2 linked regions of the Homo sapiens genome follow. The protein of the gene in region 2 purifies or fractionates together with the protein of the main gene of each other region. This does not show direct contact. Each region holds a gene or a part of one and is shown on either strand. Other genes may lie near its edges.

Region 1 (3,842 bases), on a different chromosome or scaffold from region 2:
TATGGGAGTGAGCCACCGCACCTGGCTGATTCTTCATGTTTGTTCGTTTGTAATCTGGTCCCACTCTCGACCACACCTTCTTTGCCTGTCTGTACTCCCAGGCAACTCTTGATCTCTTTGTGTCACTGTAGATTAGTTTGGATTTTCTAGATTTTTTTCATGTAAATGGAATCAAACAGGTTATAGTGGGGAGGTTTTTGTGGCCTTTTTTTTTTTTTTTTGAGACGGAGTTTTGCTCTTGTTGCCCAGGCTAGAGTGCAATGGCGCGATCTCGGCTCACTGCAACCTTTGCCTCCTGGGTTCAAGTGATTCTCCTTCCTCAGCCTTCCGAGTAGCTGGGATTACAGGCATCCGTCACCACGCCCAGCTAATTTTTTGTATTTTTAGTAGAGTTGGAGTTTCACCATGTTGGCCAGGCTGATCTCGAACTCCTAAACTCAGGTGATCTGCCTACCTCGGCCTCCCAAAGTACTGGGATTACAGGCATGAGCCACTGTGCCTGGCCTTGTCTGTTCTTTTTAATGACAGGTTAGCTGTTTTCCACTTTTAAATGGTTTAAAATAAAATCAGAAGAATAACATTTTTGTGACTTGAAAATTATATGAAATTCAAATTTCTGGGTCTATAAATAAGCCTCACTCATAAATTTATGTATTTTCTGTGGCAGCTTTTGCATTACAAAAGCAGAGGTGGGTAGCAATAAAGATTGCATGGCTCAAAAAGCCTAAAATATTTACTATCTGGCCCTTCACAAAACAAGTTTACTGACCTCTGGCCGATTGTGTGGTCTGTTCTGGAGAATGTTGCATGTCTACTTGAAAAGAATGTGCATTCTTTTGTTTCTAGTGAAGTGTTCTATAAATGTCTATTAGTTTAAGTTGCGTGATAGCGCACCTATAGTCCCAGCTACTTGAGGCGCTGAGGTGGGAGGATCACTGGTGCCCAGGCGGTTGAGTCTGCAGTGAGCCATAACTATGCCACTGCACTCCAGCCTGGGAGACAGAGCAAGACCCCGTCTCAAAAAATATAAAATAAAAAAATAAAAAAATTATCGAGAATGGAATATTGAAATGAAGTATTGTTGTTGAATTGTGTATTTCTTTTTTTTTTTTGAAATGGAGTTTCGCTCTGTCACCCAGGTCGGAGTGCAGTGGTGTGATCTCTGCTCACTGCAACCTCTGCCTCCCGGTTCAAGCGATTCTTCTGCCTCAGTCTCCCAAGTAGCTGGGACCACAGGCGTGTACCACCACGCCTGGCTAATTTTTGTATTGTTAGTAGAGACGGGGCTTCGCCATGTTGGCCAGGCTGATCTTGAACTCCTGACCTCAAGTGATCTGCCTGCCTCGACCTCCCAAAGTGCTGGGGTTACAGGCATGAGCCACGTGTCTGCCCCCGTTTTTTTTTTTGTGTGTTTTTTTTTTGAGACAGAGTCTCACTCTGTCACCCAGGCTGGATAGCAGTGCTAGGATTACAAGTGTGAGCCACCATGCCCATTTCCCCATATTTTGATAGCAGCAGTTAGTGTACTCACATTTAATATAATTATTAGTGTGGTTGCGTTCATATCTGCTATTTTGTTATTTGTTTTCTGTATGTATCATGAATTTTTTGGTTCTTTGTCCTCCTTTACTGTCTTTTGTGTTAAATAAATATTTTTTACGTACTATATTAATTCTTCTGTTGATTTGATTAATTCTTCTGTATATTTTTAGTTTTTTTGTTTGTTTGTTTGTTTTTTGAGATGGAGTTTTGCTCTTGTCGCCCAGGCTAGAGTGCAATGGCACGATCTCGGCTCCCTGCAACCTCCATCTCCCTGGTTCAAGCAATTCTCCTGCCTCAGCCTCCCGAGTAGCTGGGATCACAGGCGCGTGCCACCATACCTGGCTAATTTTTGTATTTTTGGTAGTGACAGGGTTTCACCATATTGGTCAGGCTGATCTCTAATTCCTGACCTCAAGTGATCCTCCCGCCTCGGCCTCCCAAAGTGCTAGGATTACAGGCATGAGCCACTGCACCCAGCCTTCAGTTATTTTCTTTTTCTTTTCTTTTTTTTTTTGAGACAGAGTCTAGTTTTGTCGCCCAGGCTGGAGTGCATTGACATGATTTTGGCTTACTGCAACCTCTCTCTCCCGAGTTCAAGCAATTCTCCTGCCTCAGCCTCCCGAGTAGCTGGTATTTCAGGCATGCACCACCACACCCAGCTAATTTTTGTATTTTCAGTAGAGACGGGGTTTCGCCGTGTTGGCCAGGCTGGTCTCGATCTCTTGACCTCGTGATCCGCCCACCTCAGCCTCCCAAAGTGTTGGGATTACAGGCATGAGCCACCACACCTGGTCAATCTCTTCTTACTTGTGATTCTATTTCCAAAAAAGATCATGTACACATGTACCAGAAGTTAGGACTTGAACATATCTTTTGGGGGGACATAATTCGACCCACAACAGTTGCTGTAGGGATTACTGTATGTATCTTATCATTGTGTACTTTAGATTAATACTCATTTAATTCCAGTAAAATATAGAGGCTTTGCTCCAATATAGATCCACTTCCACCCCTTCCCCATGTTCTTATTGTCATACATATTACACCTGCGCATGTTATAAATCTGATAACGCAGTGTTATAATTGTTACTTACACAGTTGCTTACACCAAGTATAAGCATCTTTTCTCTTGTTAACAAAAAATAAAAATATCAGACAATATTCATGTTAGAACTACACTCATTTTTCAGCTGAAACCATACTCTTTTTTCTTTTTTTGAGATGGCGTCTTGCTCTGTCGCCCAGGCTGGAGTGCAGTGGTGCAATCTCGGCTTACCGCAATCTCCACCTCCCGGGTTCAAGCAATTCTGCCTCAGCCTCCCGAGTAGCTGGGACTACAGGCACACGTCACCATGCCCAGCTAATTTTTTGTGTGTGTATTTTAGTAGAGATGGGGTTTCACCATGTTGCCCAGGCTGGTTGCAAACTCCTGAGCTCAGGCAGTCTGCCCGCCTTGGCCTCCCAAAGTGCTGGGATTACAGGTGTGAGCTACTACGCCCGGCCCAACCATACTCATTTTTCAATTAGCTATGGATACAAGAATTCAGCAAAAATCAACATAGGCATTCTGTGAGAATCCATTGACTTATGCAATTTACTATAAAGAGTATTGTGCATTTTACTGTTATTTGTAAATTGTGTGCTACATACTGCTGTATCAGTAATATTCGTATGTACTTGTGTACATGGGTACCTCGGTTTTGGGGAGCGAATGGTTAAACATCCGCCAGCACATCACTGCATGCTGCCCTGTTACTCCAGAAAGGCTGCGTTTGCACTCATCAGTGCTGTATGAGAGTTCCTTTTTTCTTGTACCAACACAAAATGTTCATTCTCCTTATTTCATCTTTTGTCAATATGAGGCAAAAAACAACGTAATCTCAATTTGCTTCCAGTGTATTTCGTGGCCATTTGTATTTCTCTCTTGGGACATCACCCACTTCTTTCTTTGGATATTCATAGTGTGTGGTTTTTTTTAAATTAATGATTTATGGACAGTCTTTTATATTAAAGGATTAACCCATTACTTGCCATGTGTTGCAACTGGTTTTTTCCAGTTTGTAACTTGTTTTCTTTCACTTTTATTTATATTGTCACTTTTCGCCAATTAGAAATTTTAATAGATTTAAGTTTTTTTTCCAGTAGGGTGAAATTTACCAGTGTGTTGGTCTATTTTTTGAGATGGAGTCTTTGTCACCCAGGCTAGAGTGCAGTGGCACGATCTCAGCTCACTGCAGCCTCCACCTCCTGGGCTCAAGCAGTCCTCCCACCTCAGCATCCCGAGAAGCTGGGACTGCAGG
Region 2 (3,842 bases):
AGGAGTGGGCAATCACCAGACAGAAGACAGGAGAGAAAAGGACATTTTAGGTAAAGGGAACAATAAATATACACTCAATGCCTAGAGACACTTAGGAAGAGACAGAGAATCTAAACCATCACAAATAATGCTCCAAAGAAAGGGCTCTTCTGAGAAAAAAGGCTGATTTTCTGGAATCCATGTGAGAGAAACCAACCTGCCATCTTTTGTTGGTAAAATAATTTAAAAATACAAGAATGATAATGAAAATTAGCTTTATTTATGTAATTTAGAAAAAATGATTGTAGTGTTAGAGTTTGTCAAATGTTTTCACTCTGAACAATTTACAATAGTATTTATATACAAACATAATAAAATAGGTACATCACATTGTTCTTGCTTCAAAATGTCTTCTCAATTCTGACATGCTTCTATCACTTCGGTTTGTAATTTTTAAGAGGGAAATGCTCTGTTTTGACACAGTGCTTGATTCACACAGTATAACACTGAAGTAGAAGGAGAATCAACAATCATGAACACAGTTAAAAAATATTTTTCAACCAATATGACTTTATCATTAATCTTTTTTCTATAATAAAATGTTTCCTGTTAAAAAAAATACTTGTATTCACCTGATGACCTAAATTTGTTGTACTAAATTTGGCATTTATATAAACCCATAGTTGATCTAAATACAATGTAGATATGAACCTAGGTTAAAACTCATTGATACAAATGTTTGCCACAAATGAAAATGAACAAAATTGGTAAGAACAGAGGTAAACAGAAAAATCCATTTGAAAAATAGTGGAAATGGCTTATTCTATTTAAAATGAGTAAGACTCAATTTCTGAACCCAATATAAACTAAACCAAAAGATGGTGGAAAACCATGATATAGACACCAAATCTTATGTTGCACTGTAAGGCTGTAAGTAATTTGTACTATTGTATACTGGATAATCCTAGACCAGGTTTCCTAAATAGCTCTCCAATCATTTTATCTTCTTGGAGAAATCAGAGAAAGTTTAATACAATTACTGAATAAGGCAGAATTTTTTTTTTTTTTTTTTAGATGGAGTCTCACTCTGTCGCCCAGGCTGGAGTGCAGTGGCACAATCTTGGCTCACTGCAACCTCTGCCTGCCAGGTTCAAGCGATTTTCCTGCCTCGGCCTCCTGAGTAGCTGGGATTACAGGTGTGTGCCACCACACCCGGCTAATTTTTGTATTTTTAGTAGAGACGGGGTTTCACCATGTTGGTCAGGCTGGTCTCAAACTCCCGACTTCGTGATCCGCCCGCCTTGGCCTTCCAAAGTGCTGGAATTACAGGGATGAGCCACTGTGCCGGGCCAAAGCAGAATTTTAAATCAGCAATTGGGATACAATATTAGTGCAGATAATTTACACTAGAGTCATATTTATATCTGTCACAGTATTAAGTATACCACATATGTATGGACTGTTAGAAGAAATTCATTTCATTTTTAAAGCAGTGGATTGTTTAGTAAGTTTAGTTCTTTAGCACTTTCTTAAAATTCCTGGCAAGTTAGCTCCATTGTCTTTTTAAATAGAAAAACAAAACAAAACAAAACACAAACCCCACGCACACACACAAAAATGTTAAGTATGCTGTTACTTTGAAGAGTCACAGCTATTTAAGGTAAAACAATCAACTAGACCTCTAAGGGCACTTGTGTCTACAATGTCCCTTTTGTCACCAAAGGCAATGATCAAGTATTTATTATATTAAGGTGCTTACTATTCCAAAAAAAAAATCAGAGGAAACTGGTCTTTAATTGGATGCTTGAGTTTTTTCCAGGACTCTTAGTATATTTAGATGTTGGTATCTTGACTTTGACACTTTCCTGATTGCCCTTTATAGCAGCCTCAAGGCGGGCTTTTAGGGCTGGAGAAGAAGCCACTAAACTTTTAAAAACAGATGAATACTGAGGTCCAATTTGCATGAGATTTTGTAGAGCAAAGTCATGTAAATTTCTCATTATGGAAGTTGCTGATCCCAGAGAATTTTCATCCAAAAGGAAGGAAATGAGGATGGGCAAAAGACAGGCCACCAGCTGAGCGCCTAGAAAGTAAACAAATAATATAAGTTCAGTGACATAAATGTTTCTAACAAAAGCCTGCAAATGCACTTGATCTGTATACATTTTTCCCCACTAAAGAAAACAATTCGTCCAATCTCTTCTAAATTAATACTAAATAATATCAATACTTGGGATTAACATAACACCTTTCAATGAATGTGAAATACAGATATAATGTGACTGATTGTTTTGCAATTTAAATAACAGTAAAATTCTGATTTTTGTTGAGACTGAGTATGAATTTAGTGCTGACACTTACGATGGTGTTCTTCAGCAACAGTAACCAGTGTTTCTAAGACCTTTATGCCTTCTTGGAAGATCTCAAGCTCAGCAGTGTTTTCAGGTTTTCTCTTGTCTATTTCCTGCAGTTTTTCCATGATACAGGATGCTAAAGAGTAAATGTATGGGTAGGAAACAGCTGGATTTGGATACTGAAAGATGGAATGTAGGAGCTGGTAGGTCTTGATTTGTACCTAATAAGGTAAGAGAAAAGAATAGCAAATACTATAAATAAATTTTTAAAAAGTCCCTGAGGACTCTTTGCTTTTTAAAGTAGTGAAGGTATTTAAATTTATTTCTAATTTGTGTTTAATTTTGAAAGTCCAAGGGCCAACAGGTAATCAAACATCTATGCTAACAGTGGTTGTGACAGTTTGGAATGGGAAAGAGGCATATAGGTAAACAGGGAAGCAAAGCTGAGTGTTAATTTTTCTTCTTTTCTCTAATTCCCATTTTCCCCCTCATGTCTTTCTCTATAATGTAAAAAACAAAAACACCACCAAAACCCCTCCTGTAACATTTTTTTTTTTTTTTGAGTGCCCAGGCTGGAGTGCAGTGGTGTGATCTCAGCTCACTGCAACCTCTGCCTCCTGTGTTCAAGTGATTCTCCTGTTTCAACCTCCCGAGTCGCTGGGACTACAGGCGTGCACCTCCACACCCAGCTAATTTTTTGTATTTTTAGTAGAGACGGGGTTTCACCTCGTTGGTCAGGCTGGTCTCGAACTCCTGACCTCAAGTGATCCACCTGCCTTGGCCTCCCGAAGTGCTGGGATTACAGACATGAGCCACCGTGCCCAACCTCCTAACATTTTTATGGGTAGAAAGCAAAACAAAACAAAACAAAAAAACACCCAAAACAAAACACATACAACCTTGAAAGATATTTTGTTGATTTCAGAAAATGTTTTAGACAAAAATGATGTATTTGATGTTCAAATGTCATGGTCTGAGTGTTTCAAGGAACGTCTGGACCATACTAATGTGTCATCAGGCATCAGAGTCCCGACTTGGAGACTGCTATACAAAGCTGCTGCAGGCAGCAGGCAACAGGACAGACGATAAAAGGAAATGACTATACATCAAAGATATAAATAAACTTTTATTGAGTTAACTGTAATGGTATTTTAATAATTATTTTTTCTGAGAGAAAATCTGGTTCCTGTATCTTCAGGAGTAGATATATGTGTGATCATTGGCTATGAACTCACCTAGAGGCACATAAAAAATAGGACATTACTCAAGCAAATGAAGGGGACATAAAAGAATGGGATAAATTTGTGTGTATTGCTTTTGGAATGGGTCCTGTTATTTCACATTCATATTACTGAAGGTATGTGCTGGAGTCTTTTTTTTGAGACAGCGTCTGGCTCTGTCATCCAGGCTGCGGTGCAGTGGCATGATCGTGGCTCACTGCAGCCTCAAGGTCCCAGGCTCGAGTGATCCTCCTGCCTCAGTCCCCCAGAGCAGCTGGGACTACAGGCC

Evidence for each region. Proteins that work in one complex are often made in the same cells at the same time.
Region 1: the proteins of HEATR5A (region 2) and GTF2H3 fractionate together in Homo sapiens (co-fractionation; one large-scale study listed by BioGRID). This does not show direct contact.

Annotation. Positions count from the first base shown.
Region 1 is NC_000012.12:123,640,133-123,643,974, forward strand, and holds part of GTF2H3 (general transcription factor IIH subunit 3), read left to right. Parts: intron 1-3,842. UniProt on the Homo sapiens protein: Component of the general transcription and DNA repair factor IIH (TFIIH) core complex, which is involved in general and transcription-coupled nucleotide excision repair (NER) of damaged DNA and, when complexed to CAK, in RNA transcription by RNA polymerase II.
Region 2 is NC_000014.9:31,291,551-31,295,392, forward strand, and holds the end of HEATR5A (HEAT repeat-containing protein 5A), read right to left. Parts: intron 2,555-3,842; coding exon 2,341-2,554; intron 2,063-2,340; coding exon 1,755-2,062; 3' UTR 238-1,754; downstream 1-237.